7 linked regions of the Homo sapiens genome follow. The protein of the gene in region 3 purifies or fractionates together with the protein of the main gene of each other region. This does not show direct contact. Each region holds a gene or a part of one and is shown on either strand. Other genes may lie near its edges. The genes, in order: TRAPPC11, ZNF211, OTUB2, SOX10, NEXN, TRAPPC8 and RCC2.

Region 1 (2,797 bases), on a different chromosome or scaffold from region 3:
AAGTGAATACCCTCTTCAGCCTTCCCATAAAAATATAGATGACACTGGCTGAGCACCCTCATACATAACTTTGGGTCTGGCACTGTTCCAAGCTCTTCTCATGTATGAATCTATATCATCCTTCATAACAAGCCTATAAGATGGGTGTTATTTACATCTTATATACAAGAACGCTGAGATACACAGAGGGTAAGGAACTTGAACAACGTCACCCAGACAAAAGCAGCAGAGGAGGGATTTGATCCTAGACAGCTGGACTCTAGAGTCATGCTCCATGGCCTCTACCTGAAAAGCCATGTTACAACAGGGAGCTCATGTCCTCCCAAGATAGCACTGTCCAACTCTCACATAATGTTACCAGAGCCAGTTCTAGAACACAGCCCAATTTTCAATCCTGTGCTTGCCATTGCATCTCATGCAACAGTGTTCTTAGTAAAAGCTGTTCCATGAAGCTGAAATCAAACAAGCTCAAAATAAAAGATAGAGACAGACAAGCATACTTGAAAGAGAACATGTTTATTTACATCACTATTTCCTTTTTACAATGCCTCCACCTTTTGAATAATAAAATTTTCCAGGAAATCAGGTCATTTTAAATTATTAAGGTATTTTAACAAATACAATTTTCACCCTATGATTTTTATTTACATGAGTTTTCAAGAGTTTTAAATAGTTCTTTTGAAACTGCACAATATAACCAGAAGGCCTGACTCAGACCCTGCATCTTTTCCAAAAACTTTCAGTCTAGGAAATTATGTTTATAATCAAATCCTTGCACTTTGGATCTTTTCCGATGAGGATTTTATTAACACCTCTAAAATATGAACCTGCTTCATAAATGATCCATATTTTGGCAGCAAGCTGAACCTATTTGACACTTCTTGATAGTAAGCAAAGATATTTTTGATACCTTAATTAAACTGCTTTGATTAAAACTTTCTGGAAGTTTTCCGTATCAGTCATACAACTCCCTATGTTGTTGTGTATGTGTTCTGAGTACACACTGAATTTATGAGAATGATTTATTTCCGGTCTGGCCAGCTCTGAAAGAGACACATGGGGGATTCGGAACTTTATGGCACAGGCACTGGTGCATCTGCTCTCTTTGTCCAGTCACACTTGGGATGCTTAATTTTCCTGATATTATACATGCAAATCACTTACTTTTCATAGAATTTACCATTCATCAAATGACTTTCAACAATAACAATGGTCTGACATTCTTTCATGTCGTACTGAGATTTCAGATATTTATTAGAGAAACTATAAGACAGATTTTCCTAATATTTTTGAAGTATGAGTTCCTCTGAATAGTTGGTATAACATCCATTAAAAAATAGAAAAGGTTAACTTTTTACCATGATCAAAGCTAGAGTTCACAATGAAACACCTGCATAGCTCTGCCCAACATCTCTGTAACAACAGCCAAGGGCCGGTCTTGAACATCATGCAGCAGCAATAGAGGTATCATCCATGAGTCGACCCTGTGGCTTTAAAGTGGGAAAAACAAAGTGGGTTTACAAAATTATAATATAATAACAAAAGCTCTATTAACTGGAAGGATTTTTAAATTCTTGAAACTGTTTTACAAAAACAGAATAAATGAGTGTAAGCATCAAAATAAAAATGGTGATATGGTGATTCTCCTCCTTTCACCCCACCTCTTTCTTTCTTCACTTGCACCTGGGGATGGCCACGGCACAGGCTGGGAGCTGCCCTCTCCTGTAGCCATCACCAGCTGACTCTGCACTTCCACCCGAAGAATCCTCTTCTGTCAGTACTTCTCTCTCAACCCTGCGTTCCAGCAGCTACTGCCAGGCCATCTCCCACATGTGGAATGGAACCTTGTTTATCATTCCTACTTAACTGATAGTTTTATTCTCTCTCTCTTGCTCAGGGCCCTCCTGTGTCTCAAGCTTTAAGCAGGTCCAGAGCCTGAGCTGACAGGTAAGTTCCTTTTGGGGACTCAAGGTTGCCCAATCTCCTGTTTGAGAAAAAGTGTCTGCAGTGAACTCCAATGCATGCTGCAAGGATAAAAGTGGCAGATAAAAACAAAAACTGCCCTATCTCTAAGATCACTGATTGAAAGAATTTAAAACATCACGTCAGAAAAGTCAAGACTAAGAATGAATAAAAGGTATCGTAACTGTTTTTAGTTGTAAAATTTCTGGCAGGTTAACAACATCCCAGAGGGATAGCTAGTAGCTAAAAGAATACAATTCTTACAAATAATTTTATTTTATTATACAGATATACAATAGCAGACCTTTGTGGGGAAAGCAGGAGAAAGATGATCAGGAAATGAAACAGAAGAGTGTTCACAATCAAAAGTGATTTGCTATGCTTTAAGCAGAAAGATTCTGAGGCATTCCCGAGGCAGTGAAGACAGCACTCCTGCTTTCAGTTTGCTGCTGCTGTGGTTGTTCAGATGTATATAGCAGTGTGTGTGTACATACATACAGAAACATAGCTAAGTATAGCTTCCAGACATTCACGGCAGGAATGGAGTGAGTGAAATAGGTTCCCGATCCTTGATTCTTGACTGTTTTTTTAGTACTGATGGGAGCTGCTCAATTTTAGAAACAAAATCATGGCTCAAGCTAGTGAAATCCCTGCCAAATGTAGCTTTTACAAGCAAGAGCAAAAAATGAGTGCATCATACAATTAGAAAACCAAAGCCTTTTATTCAAAGGAAGAAAAGTATGGATTCATCCTTGCCTAGGACGTCACTGTCTGGTATGGCAGTCGCTAGTCACATTTAGCGATTGAGCACTTGAAATGTGGCAGTGTAACTAAG
Region 2 (3,500 bases), on a different chromosome or scaffold from region 3:
GATCAACTGAGGTCAGGAGTTTGGGACCAGTATGGCCAACATGGTGAAACCCTGTCTCTACTAAAAATACAAAAATTAGCTGGGTGTGGTGGTGTGCGTTTGTAATCCCAGGAGGGATTACTCAGGAGGCTGAGGCAGGATAATCGCTTGATTATGGGAGGCAGAGGTTGCAGTGAGCCGAGATCGCCCCACTGCACTCCAGCCTGGGCAACAGAGTGAGACACCATTAAAAAAAAAAAAAAAAAAAAAAAAAAAAAAAGTACATAAAGGAAATGACAAGGGAAGTTTCACTAAAAAAAAAAAAAAAAAAAAGTGAGCCAAACACAAAAGAAGCAGTAATGCAGGAAATTAGGATCAAAAAAGCTATAAGGCTATAAGACATGGGGAAAACAAAGAGCAAAATGATAGAAGTCTGCCCTTCCTTATCAGTGATTACCTTAAACGTAAATGCCTTAAATGCTCCCAACTTTTAGCTTAAACTCTGCCAAAAGACAAAGATTGGCAGAATGGGTTAAAATAAAAACAACCCATGATCCAACTTTATGATGTCTACAAGAGATTTGCTTTAGATCCAAAGATGTAAATGAGGTGAAAGTGACAGCCTACAAAAAGATATTCCATGCAAATAGCAAGCAAAAAAGAGTAAGAATGGCTACATTAATATCATACAATAGAGATTTTAAATCAAAAAGGGTAACAAGAGATATAAAAGGATATTATATACTAATAAAAGGTTCAGTAGAGCAAGAAGATATAACACTTATAAACACTTATGCACCTAATAATAGACCATCAAAACACATGAGGCAAAAATGGACAGAACTGAAGGGAGAAATGGATAGTTCTACAATAACAGTTAGAGACATCAATACCTGACTCTCAGCAGCGGATAGAACAATCAGAGAGAAGAGAGAAAACAGAGGACCTAAACAACCAACTAGCTCTAACAAATATATAAAGAGCATTCTACCCAACAACAACAGAATGTACATTCCCCTCATGTGTACCAAAAACATTCTCCAGGACAGACCATAAATTAAGCCTCATTTGATTTAGACACACATCATACAAAGTATCTTCTCCAACCACAGTGGGATGAGGTTGGGAACTCTTAATAGAAGGAAACTAAAAAATTTACAAATCTGTAGAAATTAATACAATATTGAAAAACCAATGGGGCCATGAAGAAATCAGAAGGGAAATAAATTGGAGATGCAGTAAAAGCAGTACTAAAGGGGAAATTTATAGCTATAAACATTAAAAAGAAGAAAGATCTCAACTCAACAATCTATTTTTACAACTTAAGGGATTATAAAAAGAGGAACAAACTAAAACCAAAGCTGGCAGGAAAAAAATAATAAAGACTAAAGTCTAGATAAATAAAATAGAGAAGAGAAAAACAATATAAAAAAAAAATCAACAAAACCAAAAGGTGTTTCTTTGAAAAGGTTATCAAAATTGACAAACCTGGCCGGGTGCAGTGGCTCATGCCTGTAATTCCAGCACTTTGGGAAGCTGAGGTGGGTGGATCACCTGAGGTCAGGAGTTCAAGACCAGCCTGGCCAACATGGTGAAACCCCATCTCTACTAAGAATACAAAAATTAGCCAGGTGTGGTGGCATGTGCCTGTAACCCCAGCTAATCGGGAGGCCAAGGCAGGAGAATTGCTTGAATCCAGGAAGTGGAGGTTGCAGTGAGCCAAGATCACACCACTGCACTCTAGCCTGGGTGTCAGAGCAATACTCTGTCTCAAGAAAAAAAAAAAAAAAAAAGACAAACCTTAAAGAAAAGCCCTTGACTTGATGGCTTCACAGATGAATTCTACCAACCATTTAACTAAGAACTAATACTTATCCTTTTCAAATTCTCTCAAAAAACTGTAGCATACACACATCTAAACTCATTCTGTATGGCCAGCATTACCCTGATTCCAAATGACACAAAGATTGTGTAAGAAAATAAAACTACAGACCAATATCCTTGATGATTATTAATGCAAAAACCATCAACCAAACACTAGCAAACTGAATTCAACAGCATATTAAAAGGATTATGCACTACGACCAGATAGAATTTATTCCTGGAATGCAAGGATGGTTCAACAAACAAAAACTGATCAAAGTGGTGGCTTACACCTGTAATCCCAGCTACTTGGTAGGCTGAGGCAGGAGGATCGCTTGCGGCCAGGAGCTTAAGACCAGCCTGTGTAACATAGCAAGACCCCATCTCTAAAAAAATTAAAACGATCATCTCAGCTGATGCACTGAAAGCATTAGACAATATGCAACACTTTTTCGTGGGGAAAACACTCAGAAAACCAGGAATACAGGGAAATTACCTAAACATAATAAAATCCATATGCAAAAAAAAAAACCTACAGCTAAAATTATACTCAACAATGAAAGACTGAAAGATTTTCCTCTAAGATTAAGGACAAGATAAGGATGCTACTTTTAGCACTTCTGTTCAACATAGCAATTAGGCAAGAAAAAGAAAGAAAAGGGACCAAAATGGGAAAGGAGGAGTAAAATTATCCCTGCTCACAGATGATATACATGGAATACCATAAAGATTCCACTGAAAAACTGTTACAACTAATAAGGAAATTCAGCAAATAGGAGAATATAAATACAACATGCAAAAATCAGTTACGTTTCTATACACTAATGGTGAACAATTTGAAAAGTAAACAATTCCACTTATATCAAAAAGAATAAAACATTAAAGATTAACTTAACCAAACAAGTAAAAGCCTTGTACACTAGAAACTACAAAATTTTGCTAAAATGAATTAAATAAAACATTAATAAAATAGATCACATGCCTGCTCATGGACTAGAGTGCTCAATATTGTTAAGATGTCTATACTAGCCAAAGTAATCTATAGAAAGTGCGATACCTATCAAAATCCAAATGACGTTATTTTGCAGAAATAAAAAAATCCATCCTAAAATTCATTTGAAATATCGAGAGACACAGAATAGCTAAAACAATCTTGAAAAGGATGAAAGTTGGAAGACTCACAGTTCGTAATTTCAAAACTTACTGCAAGGCTATAGAAATTAAAACAGTGTGGTACTCCCATAAAGAAAGACATATAGATCAATGGACTAGAAGAGACCCCAGAAATAAACCCTCAAATATCTGGCCAAATGATTTTTGACCAGGAGAAAGAAGACAAATTTTTAACACATGATGCTAGGAAAACTGGATATCTACATGTGAAAGAATGAAGTTGGTCCCTTACCTGACACCACATATAAAAATTAATTCAAAACAGATCAAAGATCTGAATGTAAGTACTAAAACTATAGAAGTCTTAAAGCAAGGAAAAAGCTTCATGACATTGGACTTGTTAATGATTCCTTGGATATGATATAAAAAGCATAGACAATAAAAGTAAAAAAGTAAAACTGAATTCATCAAAATGAGAAACTTGTACATCAAAGGATCCTATCAACACACTAAAAACGTAACCCACAGAATAAGAGAAAACATTT
Region 3 (4,282 bases):
GGTTTCCCCCTCATTGGTGGAATAAAACCCAAACCCCACAGCACAGCAAGTGAGGCCCTGCACAGAACATCCTGACCCCACCAAATTTTCTAGACTCAATTTCCCTGCCTCCCTCAATCTCCTTGCATCTTCAGAGGCTGTTCACCTTTGCCAAAATCCCCTATTCTTGACCATGCTTCAAGGCCTGATAGCCCACTGTCCCCCCGCACCCGCCAAAAGGAATGTGCCCTTCCCAAATCCTTCTTGAACACTCATATACATCCTTCAACTCAGCTCAAAAGACCTCCTCTGCAGAACCTTCCAACACCCCCACTCCCTCAGAGCATATTGACCTCTCACTGTGTTCCCAATGTCCTTAGGCCTCTTAGGCATGACCTGTAGCTCAGACACTGCTTGTGTCCAGCTGTCTTGGCCAGCAGGCAGTGAGCTCCTACAGCGGGCAGGCACCTTGTCTTTCTCATCAGTGTCACAGTGCCCAGCACAGGCCTGACAAAGGTGCCCACTGGGGGCCTGTTTGACAAATAACAGAACAAAGCACAATAGGACCCTGCGGTTTTCCTGCTTATGTCTGACTCATTCATTCGTCAAACATGAAATGCACCTTGAGTGCACGAGAACCCTAGCTATTTGCAGTCCCTGCCAGAGGTCTGGTCCTTGTCTCACCCCTACCTTCCCAAGTGTCTTTGTGTCTTCCACGGGGCGCCCTTCCTCAAGCTTAGCCCAGTGATGTAGAAACAGGAAAGTAAAGAAGATGCTGTATTTTCCAAGGATATTCCTTCTGTCACCACCATCCACACAATGCAAGTTCAACATAAAAACCCACCATGCAGCACAGGGCCCAGTATGGTCCCCGCATGCAGTAGGTGCTCAATAAATGCCATGTGCAGGGAAGGGAAAAGACCCTGCATGGCCTCCACCCCTGTGATTACCAGACAGACGTCATATTTTAGTGGGTTAACCACTTCATCCTTCGCCAAGGCACCCAAGCCCCCGGTGAGGGGTGAGGGCTTTGGACCCCATCTGCCATCTAACTTCCAGTCTCCTGAGTCAGGGCAGATAGGGAGCAGAGTGAGCGGCCTCACTGCATGGCACAAAGAGCAGCTACCGCCTCTGCTGTGCTCTCAGCTGCCGAGTGGTGGCCAGAGGGCATGCCAGCCTCCAGCTCCCGGGTGGCTAAGCCCATCATTACCCCAGCTCCACCACTCCCTGGTGGGTGATGCAGAAACACCTGGGCTGCCTTCCAGGAGCAGCTCAACCAGGTAAACCCTTGGGCACCAAGTGGAAGCAGGAAGCTGGTGCTTCCAGATGCTCCAGAGGCCCCCAGCTATGCCCCAGGCAGCAGGCTGGCTTGGCAAGGACAGTCCCAGCTCGAGTGCCCTGGCTGCCTATGCCACACCCAGATCGTGCCAGGCCATGACCAGGCTTTGACCCATGCCCCAGCCCGGCAGCATGCTGCCGTGGTGACCCATTTTCCTGCCCAGTCATAGGAGAGAGGAGGCTAAGCTTGAAGAACCAGGCATCTGTGCACACCCATTTCCAGGACTCTGTTGTCACAGGAAAAGCTCCAGCTAATCATATCACATGGTTCCCATGACACAGATGTGCAAAACGGTGCTGAGGGGGAGAGCGGACCAACCAAAGCCTCTTCGCTTTCCAACAGGTGGAAGTGAGACTTGAACCTGGGGCTGTGTGGCCCCGACTCAAGCCACCCAGCCCTCACTCCACAGGCTCCCCCTGCTCAGGGTTGAAGGGTCTTAGGCAGCCATGCCACCCAGTCCCCTGCAGGATGCCTGACCCCACGGCAACCTGGAAGGTGAGCCGATGTAACACAAAGAGCACTGAACTGAGAGTCCAGAGCCTGGGTTCAAGCCCCAGGTCCACCACAATCAGTACCAGCCCTGCCCTGTCTGGCCTCAGTTTCCCCACCTGCCCAAGCCCAGGGTTAGCCTGGCTCAGAGGGTCTCTGGGCCTCGTTCTGCGCAGACAAGGCTCTCCATCAGGGATTCCTGAGTATTTTCTTTTCCCCGACCCCTAACTCATGCGCCTCACAACTTGAGGCATCCTCTCTAGGTGGGTCCTGACTCCAAAGATGGAGACGGTCTAGTCGCCCACGGAGCAGACGACCTGGTGCCCCGTGCAACCCCTAGATCCTCCCTTGGGGTTGGGGCAGGGGCCAGGAGGTCTTTGACGGCCGAGCCGTCGGGTGGGTGGGGCCGTGGACTGCTGACTGGGGGGCTACTTAACAAAGAGGAGGCGACCCGTAGTGCTGCAGCCTCCCTGTCCCTGCTTCCGTCGAGGGCGCCCACCCAGCGCCGTCGAGGCGGCGCCCCGGGCCACCTGGGGCGGACACGCTGGGGGCGGGGGCTCGGGGCCGAGCTGGACCTCCTCAGCTGCACATCCACGGGGTACAGGGGGGCGCGACTTGGCCCTCAGTATCCGTCCGGACTCCGTATTTCAGGGGGTCGGAAAGCGGCGGGGGCGAGCTGGGGGCTGAGCCTCGCGTCCGACCCCCGTCCCGCGGGTGCACCCGCTCCGGCAGCGACCCCGCCCACCGCGCCCCCTGCCCGCTCCCCCTTCGCGATCCCCCACGATCACTGACCATAGTGACCAGAGCCGCCAGGCCAGGTCCCGCCCCAGCGAGGAGCGATCCGGTGCGGGAATGCCGCGGGAGGCGCGGGCGGGCTCCGCCGCTGGTTCGGTGGCGGGGACCTCGAGGGCGTGGGGGCGGCGGAGAATACACCCGACCGCTCCGCAAACCAAAGGTTAGACCTCCACTGTGTCCCAGCAAGACACACGCCCTGCGATTGACGTCTCAGGCGGGCAATCAGAAGCCGGGACGCGGGACGTCATAGAAAGTGGGTGGGACTTCACGTGCCTTCAGCCTATGCGTTAGGGTCCATTTGATAGGATGCCTCCCCCTTTTAAAGACACAGGAAAGCTTTTAACTAGCAGAGGAGTTAGCTCAACCCAGAAAGACAGGTCCTCGTTTGTAAAGGCTGAAGGGCTTTTGCGCAAACCTAAAATTGGAGTCTTCTGAAGGATTAGCTGGCCGTCATTAATTCATAAACAAGGTCACATAAGTATAGTTTGCACAAGATCAGAGGATAGGCGCTTAGGGAACACGTGTCCAATAACATTAAGTATGGCTTCTATATAATATTTTATCCTCTTCCAACTCATGAATCAGTAGGTTGCCACGCACCCAGTTAATGTTTGTTGAATGAATGAATGTCCAGGATCGTTGACTCTGTGGCTCTGGAATTGTAGGGATATCCGTGAACCAGGTCTAGATGACTCATCTTGCCTACAAGCTCATTATTAATGGACATCAAAATAGGAATATTTATCATTCAAAGATTCATTCACCAGCCCTTGAGTCCTGGAGGAGCTGCTTGGGTGTGGGAGGGAGAGTTTGTAGGGGAGGGGGGCTCAGTGCATTGCATGCATCCACTTCAAAAAATTAATATTTCCAGGAGCGTGTATTGAGCAATTCCCCTTCCTGCTGCTGCCCCCCGCCCCCGCCCCCCGCGCCCCACTCTTACTACGTAAGTCCCAGGTACTGGGCTAGGCTCTGGGCATACAGACATCTGAGTCTTCCAAGCATGTATCATGTCCTGGGCAGGGAGTGTGAGGTCAATGGAGGCTCAAGGAGCAGTAACAATAGCAGGTAATTTTTTACAGTTATTTACACAGTTATGCAGAACACCTACTATGTATCAGGCGCTATCCTGAACTCTCCACATATACAGAATTATCTTACTTAATTTCCTCACAACTGGTTTAAGGGGGTAGGTCCTGTTATTATTATCCCTGTTTCACAGATGAGGAAACATGTACAGAGAGTTTACGTTCCTTGCCTTAGTCACATAGCACTGAAGTGGGATTCAGTCCCAGGCAGTGTGACTCCAGAGCTGGTTTCGAATTCACTCTGCATGTGACTACAGGGGCTGTGTTACCTGCCTCCGCCCCTGACCCCCATTTGTTTTCGGGGGGTTTCTCGCTCTTTTTTTTTTTTTAACCGCCAAGGAAGCCAGAGAGGTGACAGGAGCAGCCCAGTGCTGCTGAGCTAAGAAGTGGCCTGGCTGGGCTGGATCCCTGGACTCCTGACTCCCCAACCAGTGCTCATTCCAAGGCGTGTTAGCTTCCCTCTGTGGAGGAATGACTGAGCCAGGTTCCATGGTGTCTGAGTGAGGGGTATGGGTGAAGAGTCTTTTCAGCCAAGGCTTTGATGAGCCCTCAAGTTTGGCTGCACTAAGCCCCGAGTCCTGGGCTCACTCTCTGC
Region 4 (3,500 bases), on a different chromosome or scaffold from region 3:
TTGGCCAGGGTTGTCTTGAACTCCTGACCTCAGGTGATCCACCTGCCTCGGCCTCCCAAAGTGCTGGGATTACCATCATGAGCCACTGCGCCCCACAGCATTTGTTTAAATACTGGTGTCTTAGATTGATCTCTAGTTGTTTATGAAATTCTCAAATCTTAGGGATGGGTCCTGGGGAGGCCTGCCTCATTCTGAAAAAACCTTTCCTGTGGAAAGTTCTTCCTCTCATCAGCTTCTCTGCTGTCCAGGTGGTCTGGCCCAGCCTTTGCGCTCTGCCAGCCCCGCTTCCACACCCATGCCTACTGTCTTCCTTGCTGAGCCTCGCTCGCCCAGGCTCCTGAGTGCTCTGTTTCACCTTTGCTGGTTGCCTGGGCCTGCTCCCTGTCCTGGCCTCATGTTGTGTCCTTTCCAACCCTTCCCTCCTCCTGAGCCCACCCTGCTTCCCAGCCCACTGGCAAGCCCTTAGCCCCGTCATACGCTGGCCTGTGTTGCCCTGTTGTTCTTTGAGCTGCCTTCCTCCATGGGAGGGCACTTAGAAAACTGGTCCTTGTTCCTTTGTCTGTTCACTTTCCTATTCACATATTAATTTAGCAAACTCTTAGGGAGCATTACAAAATGCCAGGTACTGTGCCAGGTGCTGGGGATACTAATGTAAATAAAATGGATCCCTGTTCCCAAAAGCTCATAGTCTAGTCATAGATCCATAGATCCACATGCACCCAGAGTTGGAAGTGCTGTGGTGACAATATGCAAGGACTTGGGAGACCAGAGGAGGAGTCCACCCGCTGCCTCAGGGATTTGGGGAAGGTTTGATCAGGGAAGGATGTCTGAGTGGGGTGGGGCCTTGAAGGGTGAGAAAAAGTCTGTGTCCAGTTTCATTCTGAGGTGGTTGCTCTGTATGTGGTCCAGGGTCTCCTGATGTGTGTGTGTGTGTCCCTGAATCTTTGAAGGTGAAGAGTATGTACACGTGTGTGGGAGGGATGACTGCCTGGCATCCCAATGGAGACAGAACATGTCCATGGTCTTAAGAGACTAGGAGCTCCCCAAGGACAGGCCTGTGCCTCCTTCATCAGACCAGAGGCAGCGCCAAGTCCTGCATTGGCCAAGGGCTCTGTACTTCAAGAGACCTGCCTAGGCTTTTGAATCCTGGTTCTGTGTCTGGACAAATCCCCAGTCTTCTCTTAACTAGTTTCCTTATCAGTAAAATAGAGATTGTACCAAGCAGCCCAGGCATTGCCTCTTTCTGGAAGCCTTCCTTGACAAGAGTCTGGTGGGCAGTGGGGTGTTCTTGGAGACCTGACTGGATGGGATAGACGGCCATGCCACCTCTGGATCTCACACAGACTTCTTGTGCACTTGTTTCTCTCTCTATATATATACTATATATATAGTAAGAGATAGGAGGCTGGGCGTGCTGGGTCATGCCTGTAATCCCAGCACTTTGGGAGGCTGAGGTCAGGAATTCGAGACCAGCCTGGCCAACACGGTGAAAAACCATCTCTACTAAAAATACAATAATTAGCTGGGTGTGGTGGCGTGCATCTGTAATCCCAGCTACTTAGGAGGCTGAGGCACAAGAATCGCTTAAACCCAGGAGGCAGACGTTGCAGTGAACCAAGATGGCACCGCTGCACTGCAGCCTGGGCAACAGAGCAAGACTCCATCTCAAACAAAAACAAAAACAAAAAAAAGACAGAGTCTTACTACATTGCCCATGCTGGTCTCAAACTCATGGGCTCAGGTGATCCTCCCACCTCAGCCTCCTGTGTAGCTGGGACTGCGGGCGCATTCCACCATGCCTAGCTTTGTTTCTTCCTGTACTTAATTCACTCGTTTTCATCCCTGCTCCTCTCTCTAGACTATGGGCCCCTGAGGCCAGGGACTGTAGGCTTCTCTGGTTAGTACCCCTGGTGTCCACTCCAGTGTTTGACACAAAGTAGGACTCAGAGCGTGTCCTCTGAAGGCAGAGCTCTGCTCACTGAGCACTTCCCATGTGGCAGACCTGTGTGTGTCACTTTCTGTACATTAGGAACACAGGCAAGGCAGCTGTGGTGCCAAGCAGATGCCCGGGAGCCAAACTGGGGAAGTTCCTGTTTGTTTCTCATCAGTAAAATGAGAGTAACTTGCCACAGCTGAGATCTGAGCCCAGGCAGTTTGGGTACCTCATCACATTGTTTGCAAGGATTGAGTTAGTATACATAAGGCAACTAGCACCTAGCACAGTGCCTGGAACAGAGTAGCTGCTCAATTAAGGTTAGCTGTTATTATCATTAATGAAAATTAAACAAGATAGCTTATGTCTGGCCCATCCATGGCCAGACACGGTATCACATGCCATGTCTCCTCTGTCAGAATGGCTGGTGGGATTTGGGAGGCCGAGGCGGGCAGATTGCCTGAGCTCAGGAGTTTGAGACTGGGCCTGGGCAATATAGTGAAACCCTGTCTCTGCTAAAATACACAAAATGAGCCAGACGTGGCGGTGTGCACCTGTAGTCCCAGCTACTTGGGAGGCTGAGACAGGAGAATTGCTTGAACCCGGGAGGAAAAGGTTGCAGTGCACCGAGATCATGCCACTGCAGTCTAGCCTGGGCGACAGAGTGAGACTCTGTCTCCAGAAAAAAAAAAAAAAGAATGGCTGGTGGGAAAGAGGCAGTGATTTCCTCTCCTCCATTTGCTCTTCCATTTCTCAAAACCATCCTGTCTTCTCCCCCTTTACTTGTAACTGCCCCAGCCACCTCTCACTCCATGACCTCCACAGAGTCTTTTTTTTTTTCTTTCTCTTTGAGACAGAGTCTCGCTCTGTCGCCCAGGCTGGAGTGCAGTGGCGCGATCCCGGCTCACTGCAAGCTCCGCCTCCTGGGTTCACGCCATCCTCCTGCCTCAGCCTCCTGAGTAGCTGGGACTACAGGTGCTCGCCACCACGCCCAGCTAATTTTTTTTATTTTTAGTAGAGATGGGATTTCACCATGTTAGCCAGGATGGTCTCGATCTCCTGACCTCGTGATCTGCCCTCCTCGGCCTCCCAAAGTGCTGGGATTACAGGTGTGAGCCACCACACCCGGCGGCCTCCACAGTCTTTAACTGGCCCTCTTTGCCCAGTAGGATCAGCCCTGGCCAGAGCCATCTCACCCAGCCACTTCCCCTGGCACCGGAACCCCCATGGAGCTCCCTCTGGGCCCCTGCAGCTCTGCTGGGGCAACTGCACAGCCTGGCACGCTCTCCCTAGAGTCCAGGGTCTCATTGCCATCCAGCCATCTCCTGTCTCCACTGACTGGCCTTGCCCCACCCTCAGCTCTGTCATCAGCACTCACCTGAGGGGTGCTCGGGGTTCCCATCTGACATGGGGGAGCCCTCTCCTGGGTGCCGGTGGTCCAAGTGGGCGCTCTTGTAGTGGGCCTGGATGGCGGCGGTCCCACCTTGCTCGGCCTCCCCACCGGGGCACTCCGCCTCGCCCTGGGCGGCCTTCCCGTTCTTCCGCCGCCTGGGCTGGTACTTGTAGT
Region 5 (3,500 bases), on a different chromosome or scaffold from region 3:
CTCTAGTCTCAAATTGCTTCAAAATTGTTTGTCAGATAACTGTACATTGTACAAACATAAAACTGGTATAGGAAGTACAGTCATAACCTTGTGACAGTTAAGTTAGGTATCAATTTCCAGGAGTGATGAGTGAGCATTTTGAAGAGAGAAATAATTCTGATTAAATGACTCAGGTCATTTAATATATAGTAGGTGGGATGAAAACTGAAAGAAGGAAAGGAAGGAAATAAAGGAATGAAGGAGGGAGAAAGGGAGTATGGGAAGGAGGTGGCGAAAGAATGGAGAGGAAGAAAGAAAAGTTGAGGGAGGAAACTCCCTACTTCTTCTTCTTCCTTGGATACTTAGTTCTGGAAAACATGCCTTCCCAGAGAAGGGAGATAATATTCCATCCTTTGTGCCAAGCATGGCAATTTAAAGCAGAATCTTCTGAACACTAAATTGAAGCAAATACCTTCAACCAACTGGTGTTATTCCATGGGAGACTTTAAAACATATTTGCCATTTCTACTCTTGGCACAGTTTCCAGAAATAATAGGGTATTCTCTAAAGTCTAATGATTCTATTAACATATTCTCAAAGGTGAATTCTAATAGCATTCTCCAGTTAGCTTCTGTCTTACCATATTTCTCCTTGCTTCAGCAAACGCCTTCTTTTCTTCCTCTATTCTCCTTCTGGCTTCTTCTTCTGCTTTCCTTTTTTCATCTTCTCTTCTTTGCCTTTCCATTTCTTCAAAACTGAGTTTGAGTTTACCAGGGCGGTACCCTTTAAAAATTTTTGCTGTGTCTTGGTTTTCCTCATCTTCATTTACCTAACCAAATAAACAATTCATTACTAAGAATTGAGGTTCATCAGAAAAAGGAATGAATTATTAATCAAAAGGCACAGAATTAGCCACTATCACACAGGAGTTTCAATGCCCTTAATATACTTGACCTAAATCCCCTTCCTTTTTAATGTCTTCTATGATAAAATATTCAAATTTGGAGAAATTCCATATAAAGATGTACTCAGGTTAAATAAAACTTCTCAAATAAGCCAAATTTCTATAGATAAAATTGAATATTAAAACATTTTTAGCCAGGTGTTGTGGCGGCTCACGCCTGTAATTCCAGAACTTTAGGAGGCAGGAGGATCACTTGAACCCAGGAGTTCAAGACCAGCCTGGGCAACATAGCAAGACTTCGTCTCTACTAAAAACCAAAAAACACATTATAGCCAGTGTGGTGGTGTGTGCCTGTAGTCCCAGCTACTCGAGAAGCTGAGGTGGGAGGATCCCTTGAGCCCAGTAGGTTGAGGCTGCAGTGAGGGGTTACTGTTGAGTATTAACTTTCCCAGAACAAATATAAAATGCGTATGTGTGTACTATAATTGGGGTTCAAGTATATCTACACAGAATCTCTTTGGTAGTAAAATAATGTTCTCATTTTGTAATTTTTGTATTTTTTTTTTTACTGTGAACTATGGTACCTTATACTAATCAGATAAAAGATTATTATCTAGAACTATTTTATGTAAAATTCCAGCTTTATGATTTTATCATTAAAGGTTTATTATTAAATTTACTATAATATCAATTGAAATGTATTATTTATTTAACAATACTATTTCTTTATTAAGTTGACCACCAGAAATATCTAAAATGTGCAGATATTATGCAGCTATACCCGAGTAATAACATTTTCAAATAAATGTCTAGAAAATTAAATTTTTATATATATAATTCTTAGAACATCATTCAAGAAAGCTGATCAAGAAAGTTCTGTAACTTTAAAATTACAAATATTCCATTTTTAGATCCTTTTTTTTTTTTTTTGAGACAGGGTCTCACTCTGTCACCCAGGCTGGAGTCCAGTGGCTCATTCATAGTTCGCCGTAGCCTTGATTTCCCGGGCTCAAGCAATCCTCTCGCCTCAGCACCCGGGGAGCTTGGACTACAGGTCTGTGCCACCACACCTGGCTAATTTTTGTATTTGTTTTTGTAGAGACATGGTTTCCACATGTTGCTCAGGCTGGTCTCAAACTCCTGGGCTCAAGGGATCTGCCTGCCTCAGCCTTCCAAAGTGCTGAGATTACAGGCATGGCCACCATGCCTGGCGCATTTTTAAATCTTAAAACGAGGTTTGGAATCAGTGTTTTCTTATTTCAGTTTTACTTTCTGTTGATAAATCTATTAATACCATAGTAATAATTAACATTTTCAAAGAACTTAGTATATGTAACAAACACCATTTTAAGTGCTTCCTAGATATTAACTTGTTTAACCATTTAAGAAATAGGCATTGAAAAAAAATCCAAGTCATTGTGGAAGTTAAAAAAAAAAAGAAGTAGGCGCTTTCATTTTTACCATTTTAAAAATGAAGAAACTAAGAGAGATTTAATTAATTAACACAGCGAGAGATTAAAACAGTTGTCCATGGTTACACAGTTAGTAAATGGCTGATATCTGAATCTAGACAATCTGGCCCCACAATCCATGCTCTTAACCACACTACACACACACACACACACACACACACACACAGACACACACACACAGAGGCATGCACACAAATATGCACACACATACACTTAATAGGACAAACTGCATATTCCACCGTAAACTGTTATTTTGATATGTTCAAACAGTTGAAAAACTGGACTGCTGAGGACAAGTTTACACTTATAATCAGTCCCGCACCCATGTCATTAAGTACTTTGCAGATTGAACTAACAGATGAAGGAAACCAGGTTCATTGAGTAATTATTTTGCATATTTATACATTAATAACAATGTATAAAAATAAAAATTTAAAGCATATTGGGTAAAATGCCCCAGAGTGAAAACTGGAAAACAGTATGGATTTTTTTTTTTGAGACAGTCTCATTCTGTTACCCAGGCTGGAGTGCAATGGCGTGATCTCAGCTCACTGCAACCTCCATCGCCTAAGTTCAAGTGATTCTCGTGCCTTAGCCTCCCAAGCAGCTGGGATTACAGGGATTTCACAGTGTTGGCCAGGCTGGTTTCAAACTCCTGACCTCAGGTGATCTACCCACCTTGGCCTCCCAAAGTGCTGGGATTACAGCATGAGCCACCGTGCCTAGCCTAGATGTATTTTATATATGAAATATGAATACAATTAGAAAATCAGCCCTTCTATATGTAAAATCTCTTTGAATTTGTAGTAGTAAACCTTATCTTAAGTCGGCTAACTTCATTAATATTAATTGTAAGGTTTAAATATGTAGATTTACCATTTGCCGCCTTGCTTCTTCAAAAGCACGCTTCTCTTCTTCTAAACGTTTTCTTGCTTCCTCTTCAGCTTGCTTCTTTCGGTTTTCTTGTCTTTGTCGCTCCAGTTCTTCAAAAGTTAGTTTCAATTTTCCGGGAGAAAGTGATTCTTTTTTTGCTTCACTTTCTATTTCATCATCCTAAGAAAACGTTATGAAAACCCACCTTTTAGTCATAAAGGAAAATGCTGCTAACTTAAACTGCCTTGATTTGTTTCTTAGAAAACAAACAA
Region 6 (3,216 bases), on a different chromosome or scaffold from region 3:
TTTTTTTTTCTTGATTATAAAATAGTACTTAACAACAAAAAAAAATCCAGATCCACAGTCCCACATCAGATACTCCTAGAGCCAAATGCTTTTGGGAATTCAGAAATTTTTGAATTTTTGGAAAAATACTATAAAGCGTATACTTAATATTTTTGTATAACACCCCAAACAGGATCTGGGACAGTTCTCTGAAATCCAAACACACACCTATATATGTGATTTTGTGTATCATAAATTTATTAATACTTTATTGGGTACTGGGTTTTCCATTTTTCAATATTATAAACAGTTTCAATATTAAAAGCATTCATGTACAGACACTTATATATGGCTAACTAAGGAGTTAAAAGTTTAGGTTTGAAATCAAGTTCCAACATATACTAACTCTTAGGGCATTAAATGAAATAATCCACTTTTAGCATTGTGCCTAGAGAATAGAAACTATTAAATAATAAATGTTAGCTGTTATAGTAATGATGTTGCTATTATTAATAAACAGTTGGCTTCATAAAATAATTTTTAGAAATAGAATTGTTAGATGAAAGGGATGTTTGTTTTCTTCTTGAGATGGAGTCTTGCTCTCTCATGGGCTGGAGTGCAGTGGTGCAATCTCAGCTCACTGCAACCTCCGCCTCCCAGGTTCAAGTGACTCTCCTGCCTCAGCCTCCTGAGTAGCTGGGATTACAGGCGTGCACCACCATACCTGGCTAATTTTGTATTTTTAGTAGAGACGGGGCTTCATTATGTTGGTAGGCTGGTCTTGAACTCCTGATCTCAGGTGATCCACCTGCCTCAGCCTCCCAAAGTGCTGGGATTACAGGCGTGAGCCACCGCGCCCAGCTGAAAGGGATATGTTAATGTGACTTTGGGAAAAAAATTAAAAAGAAAAAAATCCTGCAACTTACATTTTCCTCCTCCCTTAGTCCAGAAGCACTGGAAATCCATGGATCATTCACATGGCTTGGACAAACACAGTATAAACTTCAACTTAAAAGCCAGGAGATTCACAGTCTGCAGCTGAAAGCATGCTTTGTTCATACAGGTGTTTATAACCTTGGAACTCCTAGGGTATTTGCCAAGTTATCGGACCAAGTTACAGTGTTTGAAACAAGTCAGCAGAATTCCATGCCTGCCCTGATCATCATCAGTAATGTGTGACAACTTGGAAATTTGTACTGAAATCCACAATAATCAGTTTTTGCTGGATGGGTTTTACAGCAGTATTTGATATACCTAACTTGTTATGGAGGTTGATTGATATCTGATCCCTGCAAAATACTTTGACTTGTCATTTTGTTGATGATGCAAAGCACGTTGGACTGAGAATACTTAACATTCTTTTTCTGTATTTCTTTAAACCCTGAGAATAATTTACATGCTCATAATACAGGATATCAGCATATTTGTGCACCTTATTAAGCCCCATCTTAAGAAAACACAAAGTCTAAGTCTGCTGTTACAACTTGTCAATGGTATACGAATATTAGGAGATGATTCTGAGAAAGGAAAGGCCTTGTTGGCAGTACTCCTGTTAAGCCATTAGTCTCTAAATTCCAGCTTTACTGTGAAGTTCTATAGAGTGTTAAATACAAATTTTCCTGTCTTGCTTCACACAGTTCCTTAAAATCAGTTTTGAACTTTGGTCATAGAGTCTTCATATTTCAGTATTTGGTGGTCCCTATGACTTATACATAACTTTGTAAAAAGAAAAAAAAATTTTTTCTGATGCTTTGAATATAGTTTTGAAAGGAGTTTTGACTTTTTTCCCCTCATTCATCTCAGTATAGAGTGCGCTATTTCACAATACGATTTTTGTCATTAAAATTACCATATTCTTTATTATATAACGTTAACTATTGAGTTGATCTGTTTAAAATATAAATCTCAAGTTAATTAAAAATAAGCTTTTCAAAAATGTATTATATTTATAACAAATATACTGTAAATAGAATAAAGACATGCTATTCACTGTATAGCGTATTAGTATCTGTTGATTAGAAAGTCTGGTTTCAAAATATTTTTTTATTCAGAGAATGGGCATTTGGACATAAGAAATTTCAATTCAGCCCTGCTGCAGATAGAGAAATGGGAGCAAGGTTGTTTCAATGAATATCTCTTGTCATTGGAGAAGGAGGGAAGACAGGGTGTAGGAGTGGGTGGCAGGGAGTACAAGAGCCAGGGTCAGTCAAGTCTGGAGCAGATGGGGTCCTTGTGCCATTGACAGCTACCATGGTTTGTTCCAGTCTCAATCTCGGCACTAATCGGAGCAGACTGCACCAAAGTGGGGAGAGATCAAAAGACCCCGTTTTCAGACTGAAGATTCCAAACCTGTACTTGGAACAACTCTTCTTGAGAGATGGGTGGCTAGTCTGTGTGCCTCTCTGCAACTGCTGCTTATGCTTCTGGATCTTAAGTGGGTCTCTGGCTTTTCAGCTCCTTCCACTCTGTGTCTTAGCAGGTGTGGGACAAGTTGGAGAGGAAGGTCACATTCTAAGGACACTCATTTCCTTCTTGAGAGTTTAGGGCCATGGGCTTATAAAAAGTCTGAGGAGGAAAGACAAGAATGAGGAGGCATAATCACAGTGGTATCTCATATTTAAACCACTCAGCTGAATATTAAATTGAACCGATTGTTAAACAGACACTAATAAAAAAATTAAACTATATAAACCTACAACTGAATATATTAAAAATAAAGGTAATAAAGCACTCAAAATTACTTCCTGAATATTACTCAGGATTATTTATGTCTATTTTATCTGTATCCTGGAAATACTACACAATGGTGTGTTTCTGCTCATCTCTTGCCAACCCTACATTCAGTGACTTGCTGGTAGCTTGAAATCAATGATAGTAGAATGTTTACCTCAGGAAAACCAGCAAATGCTACACACCAGGGCTTGATTTATTTATTTTTGTTGTCTACGCTAGACCTAAGAAAGTGATGGAGAAAATGTTAGTGATGCATATTAAAAGTGTTGCATATTTGTAGCTGTAACGAGTAGCACAAATAGTTTAGGAAAATATTCCTGCAGTATCTGAAAAGTTTTACCCAGTTCAACAAAGAAGTTGCCCGTATCACTGATGAACTAGTGAAGATCCAACATGTGTTTTCTCACTTCCTCTTCCTCGTTAATGTAAACAGAAATATCAACCAGCATTCATACTAAAATTATTCTCGCTTATCAATTGCAACATAGGTTGGTTTTCTATACA
Region 7 (3,500 bases), on a different chromosome or scaffold from region 3:
AACCCCGTCTCTACTAAAAATACAAAAAAAAGTTAGCTGGGTGTGGCAGCGGGCGCCTGTAGTCCCAACTACTTGGGAGACCGAGGCAGGAGAATTGCTTGAACCAAGGAGGTGGAGGTTGCAGTGAACTGAGATCACACCACTGCACTCCATCCCGGGTGACAGAGGGAGACTCCGTCTTTCTTATCTTGGCGTTGCCCAGCCCAGTTCAGTGCACTGCAAAAAAGGGGGCACAAGGCATGAGTGTGTGTGGATGAGACACGGCCATAGTCGGATTTAGGTTCATTCTAAAAGTGATCTATCTGGATTTGGACAACGAAACAAACACCTGCCTTAAAGCAAGTAATACGCTGAGAATAAGCGATTCTGTAGCTACAAATCAAGCCGATTTCCAAACTACCTGCAAGTTGAGTGTAACTGAGCACCTGCGAATTTGTACAAAGTGCTTACATGGTGCCTGGCACACACAGTCACTGCTCCATGAAAGTGAGCCGTTTTTATCACCAACAGCATGTCATGCTTCCTGACGGAAAATCGACTTGCCGGGGTGCAGAGGGGAGGCCAAGGCAGCAGGAGCGCGCACGTGGCAGGAAGCGGACCGCTGCTGGGCACCGCAGCAGGGCTGTGGCCATGGAAACCGCTCTCCAACTGTCTCGGGCTCCACCACGGCAACCAACGCGAAATGTGAAATGTGCGTAAGGGGCTGTTCTCTCTTATTCACTTCTGACTTGAAGTATATTTAGTTTCACAAAGTCACTGTTCCCCGAGGCTAAGGCCAGCGGGCTCGGCGCTATTTTTACCTTTTCCATCTGCCAGGCGCTGCGGCTGCAGGAGCGCGCGCGGCCAGCAGAGGGCGCCCGCGCCACACCTCGCGGAGGCCTCCCCAGAGGGGCTGGAGTGGAGGCAGAGCCACAACCGGGAAGCGCACTTCAGGGAACCGCACTTAGGGTCCGATGGGAAGGAGAATGGAGACCATCAGGTCGGAAGACACTCCCCCCACTAACTGAGAACTGATGCCTGAATTCTCCTTTTCCACCAATGAGATCGAAGAAACAAGTTTCTGGACAACTAGATTCTGGCTAGGGATGACGCACGGGGAGGGGGTCCACCAGGGCTCCTCACGTGGCAACCCGAAATAATCGCCCAGGCCAGGGTTTCCAGAACAACGTTCATTTTCCGTAATTTTCTCATTTTCAATAAAGGCATAATCTTTAAATGTGAAATTGAATGAAGGTGGTCTGATTTTTTTTTAACTTTGAAATCCCTTTATATAAATGAATTCCCAAATCAGAAAAAAAGAAATCTTTTGTAGGACTCCAGTCCCAACTTTTCCATTGAGGCAGTGTTGCAATACTCCATAATCCTGTGAATGAGGACGCGCTGTTCTGCTGAACGTGAGATCCACTTAACGGACAAAGGCTATTATCTGAGATCAATTACCCACATTTCTAACACGTGTGTGCAGCCCCACACTGATCTCTAGTTCTGAATATATACAGTTAGATTACAGAGCTTTTAAAAAATGTACTTCCATACCCAGCTGACCATATTCAGGGCACCCAAAGGAATAGAGGTTTCCTTTGCAGTCCATTATCATACTGAATTCAGCCCCACAGGCCATTTTGGTAATTGGCTGGCCGTTGTACATTATCTGAAAAGACAAGAAAGGAGACTTTCATTTTTTTTAAAGACTGATAAAAAGCCTCTACCTCTCTGCATGTTGGTGGGAAACAATTACTAGGTTACAAACGGAAGTTTAATAAACTCAGTAATTCTGAAGGCAAAAGCTGAAGGCATTTCTAGAACACAAAGCTTAGAAGATATGTAAAGAAGCACCCTCAGACCCCCACCCTCCCAGCACAGAGCAGTTCAAAGCCTAGCCACTGTCTCTTTAAGATCAATAAAACCAAGTCCCTCCCTTCCTTCATCACCTAGACCACTAATTAGGCACTTAGCATTCTTCTGCCTTTAGTAGTAGTTTGTTTTTAAGGTATAAATCTCACCCCTCCAACTCAAGTTTCTTAGAAAAAAAAAGACTGCCTATCTCCTGGGCGCGGTGGCTCACACCCAGCACTTTGGGAGGCCGAGGCAGGCAGATCAGGAAGTCAAGAGATGGAGACCATCCTGGCCAACATGGTGAAACCCCATCTCTACTAAAAATACAAAAATTAGCCAGGCGTGGTGGAGCATGCCTGTAGTCCCAGCTACTCGGGAGGCTGAGGCAGGAGAATCGCTTGAATCCGGGAGGCAGAGGTTGCAGTGAGCTGAGATCGCGCCACTGCACTCTAGCCTGGCAACAGAGCGAGACTCTGTCTCCCCTCCAAAAAAAAAAGACTGCCTATCTCGTATTTGTATTCTAAGCATCTGGCTGGTGACTTTATACAAGGTCAAAACAAAGTATTTGGGGGAAGTACAATTACATCCATATAACATCACTCACTTTCTTTGGAACAGAACAGGCTTACGACAAGGCATTTCTAACAGATTTCTCCATTTGGAAACAAAATGTTTTCAGGATGGTTTTCAACCCGACCACAAACTAAGCCTGTTTTAAAAACTATAGCAAGGCTGTGTGCAGTGGCTCACACCTGTAATCCCAGTACTTTGGGAGGCCGAGGTGGGTGGATCACCTGAGGTCAGGAGTTCCAGACCAGCCTGACCAACATGGAGAAACCCCGTCTCTACTAAAAATACAAAATTAGCCAGGTGTGGTGGCACATGCCTGTAATCCCAGCTACTCCAGAGGCTGAGGCCGGGGAATCACTTGAACCCGGGAGGCGGAGGTTGCAGTGAGCCGAGATTGCGCCATTGCACTCCAGCCTGGGCAAAAAGAGTGAAACTCCGTTCTCAAAAAAAAACAAAAAACAAAAAAACAAACAAAAAAACTCTACAGCATGTAACTAAACATCCAGACCCTGTTTTTACAAGGGGTAAATTAACTCAAACGGAGACCCCACCTTAGAAAATCAAACACAAAAGTAAAGAGAAACAAAAAGCCATGGAGCCGGAGCTGAGGAGGGGTCACCTGCGCGGGGCTGGGAACAGCGTCTGTCTGGTTGCCAAGGCCCAGCTGCCCCATCTTGTTTTCCCCAAACGCAAACACGGAGCCCGTTTCTGGAAGAAAGGAAAAATATCACAAAAGGGAAGATAATGGTGAATGTTTTGAACTAGATTTAGAATCAAAGGCATCAAAATAATAAAAACAGCTCATTTGCCAGGCAGAAGGCAAGTGAGACTGCCCAAAAGCTGGCAGTGCAGACGCTTCACAGCAAAGCCATTTCACATCAGAAACTGGGTGTGCAGAGAAACAGAGGGCAGCGTCTCCTACTCCCAGATGGGCCTCCTATGGCCACTGGGGAGGCTCCCAATGCCCTCAAGAAGCCACTCCATGCCAAGGTTCTCAGGGCCTCTTTCTGATCCTGACCAAGAGTCACAAGGGGAACTCCACCACCCCACGCCCCATCCCCAAGGCAGACCACCTGGCCTCTTGCCAAACTGAG

The links.
Region 1: the proteins of OTUB2 (region 3) and TRAPPC11 purify together in Homo sapiens (affinity purification with mass spectrometry; one large-scale study listed by BioGRID and IntAct). This does not show direct contact.
Region 2: the proteins of OTUB2 (region 3) and ZNF211 purify together in Homo sapiens (affinity purification with mass spectrometry, with the first as the bait; one large-scale study listed by BioGRID). This does not show direct contact.
Region 4: the proteins of OTUB2 (region 3) and SOX10 purify together in Homo sapiens (affinity purification with mass spectrometry, with the first as the bait; one large-scale study listed by BioGRID). This does not show direct contact.
Region 5: the proteins of OTUB2 (region 3) and NEXN purify together in Homo sapiens (affinity purification with mass spectrometry; one large-scale study listed by BioGRID and IntAct). This does not show direct contact.
Region 6: the proteins of OTUB2 (region 3) and TRAPPC8 purify together in Homo sapiens (affinity purification with mass spectrometry; one large-scale study listed by BioGRID and IntAct). This does not show direct contact.
Region 7: the proteins of OTUB2 (region 3) and RCC2 purify together in Homo sapiens (affinity purification with mass spectrometry, with the first as the bait; one large-scale study listed by BioGRID). This does not show direct contact.

The regions. Positions count from the first base shown.
Region 1 is NC_000004.12:183,711,293-183,714,089, reverse strand, and holds the end of TRAPPC11 (trafficking protein particle complex subunit 11), read right to left. Parts: intron 1,491-2,797; coding exon 1,446-1,490; 3' UTR 501-1,445; downstream 1-500. UniProt on the Homo sapiens protein: Involved in endoplasmic reticulum to Golgi apparatus trafficking at a very early stage.
Region 2 is NC_000019.10:57,636,168-57,639,667, reverse strand, and holds part of ZNF211 (zinc finger protein 211), read right to left. Parts: intron 1-3,500.
Region 3 is NC_000014.9:94,024,858-94,029,139, reverse strand, and holds the start of OTUB2 (ubiquitin thioesterase OTUB2), read right to left. Parts: upstream 2,801-4,282; 5' UTR 2,603-2,800; coding exon 2,600-2,602; intron 1-2,599. UniProt on the Homo sapiens protein: Hydrolase that can remove conjugated ubiquitin from proteins in vitro and may therefore play an important regulatory role at the level of protein turnover by preventing degradation.
Region 4 is NC_000022.11:37,974,556-37,978,055, forward strand, and holds part of SOX10 (transcription factor SOX-10), read right to left. Parts: coding exon 3,312-3,500; intron 1-3,311. UniProt on the Homo sapiens protein: Transcription factor that plays a central role in developing and mature glia.
Region 5 is NC_000001.11:77,926,624-77,930,123, reverse strand, and holds part of NEXN (nexilin), read right to left. Parts: intron 3,409-3,500; coding exon 3,232-3,408; intron 809-3,231; coding exon 620-808; intron 1-619. UniProt on the Homo sapiens protein: Involved in regulating cell migration through association with the actin cytoskeleton. Has an essential role in the maintenance of Z line and sarcomere integrity.
Region 6 is NC_000018.10:31,828,697-31,831,912, reverse strand, and holds the end of TRAPPC8 (trafficking protein particle complex subunit 8), read left to right. Parts: intron 1-923; coding exon 924-1,158; 3' UTR 1,159-2,716; downstream 2,717-3,216. UniProt on the Homo sapiens protein: Plays a role in endoplasmic reticulum to Golgi apparatus trafficking at a very early stage. Maintains together with TBC1D14 the cycling pool of ATG9 required for initiation of autophagy. Involved in collagen secretion.
Region 7 is NC_000001.11:17,419,178-17,422,677, forward strand, and holds part of RCC2 (protein RCC2), read right to left. Parts: intron 3,115-3,500; coding exon 3,026-3,114; intron 1,652-3,025; coding exon 1,537-1,651; intron 1-1,536. UniProt on the Homo sapiens protein: Multifunctional protein that may affect its functions by regulating the activity of small GTPases, such as RAC1 and RALA. Required for normal progress through the cell cycle, both during interphase and during mitosis.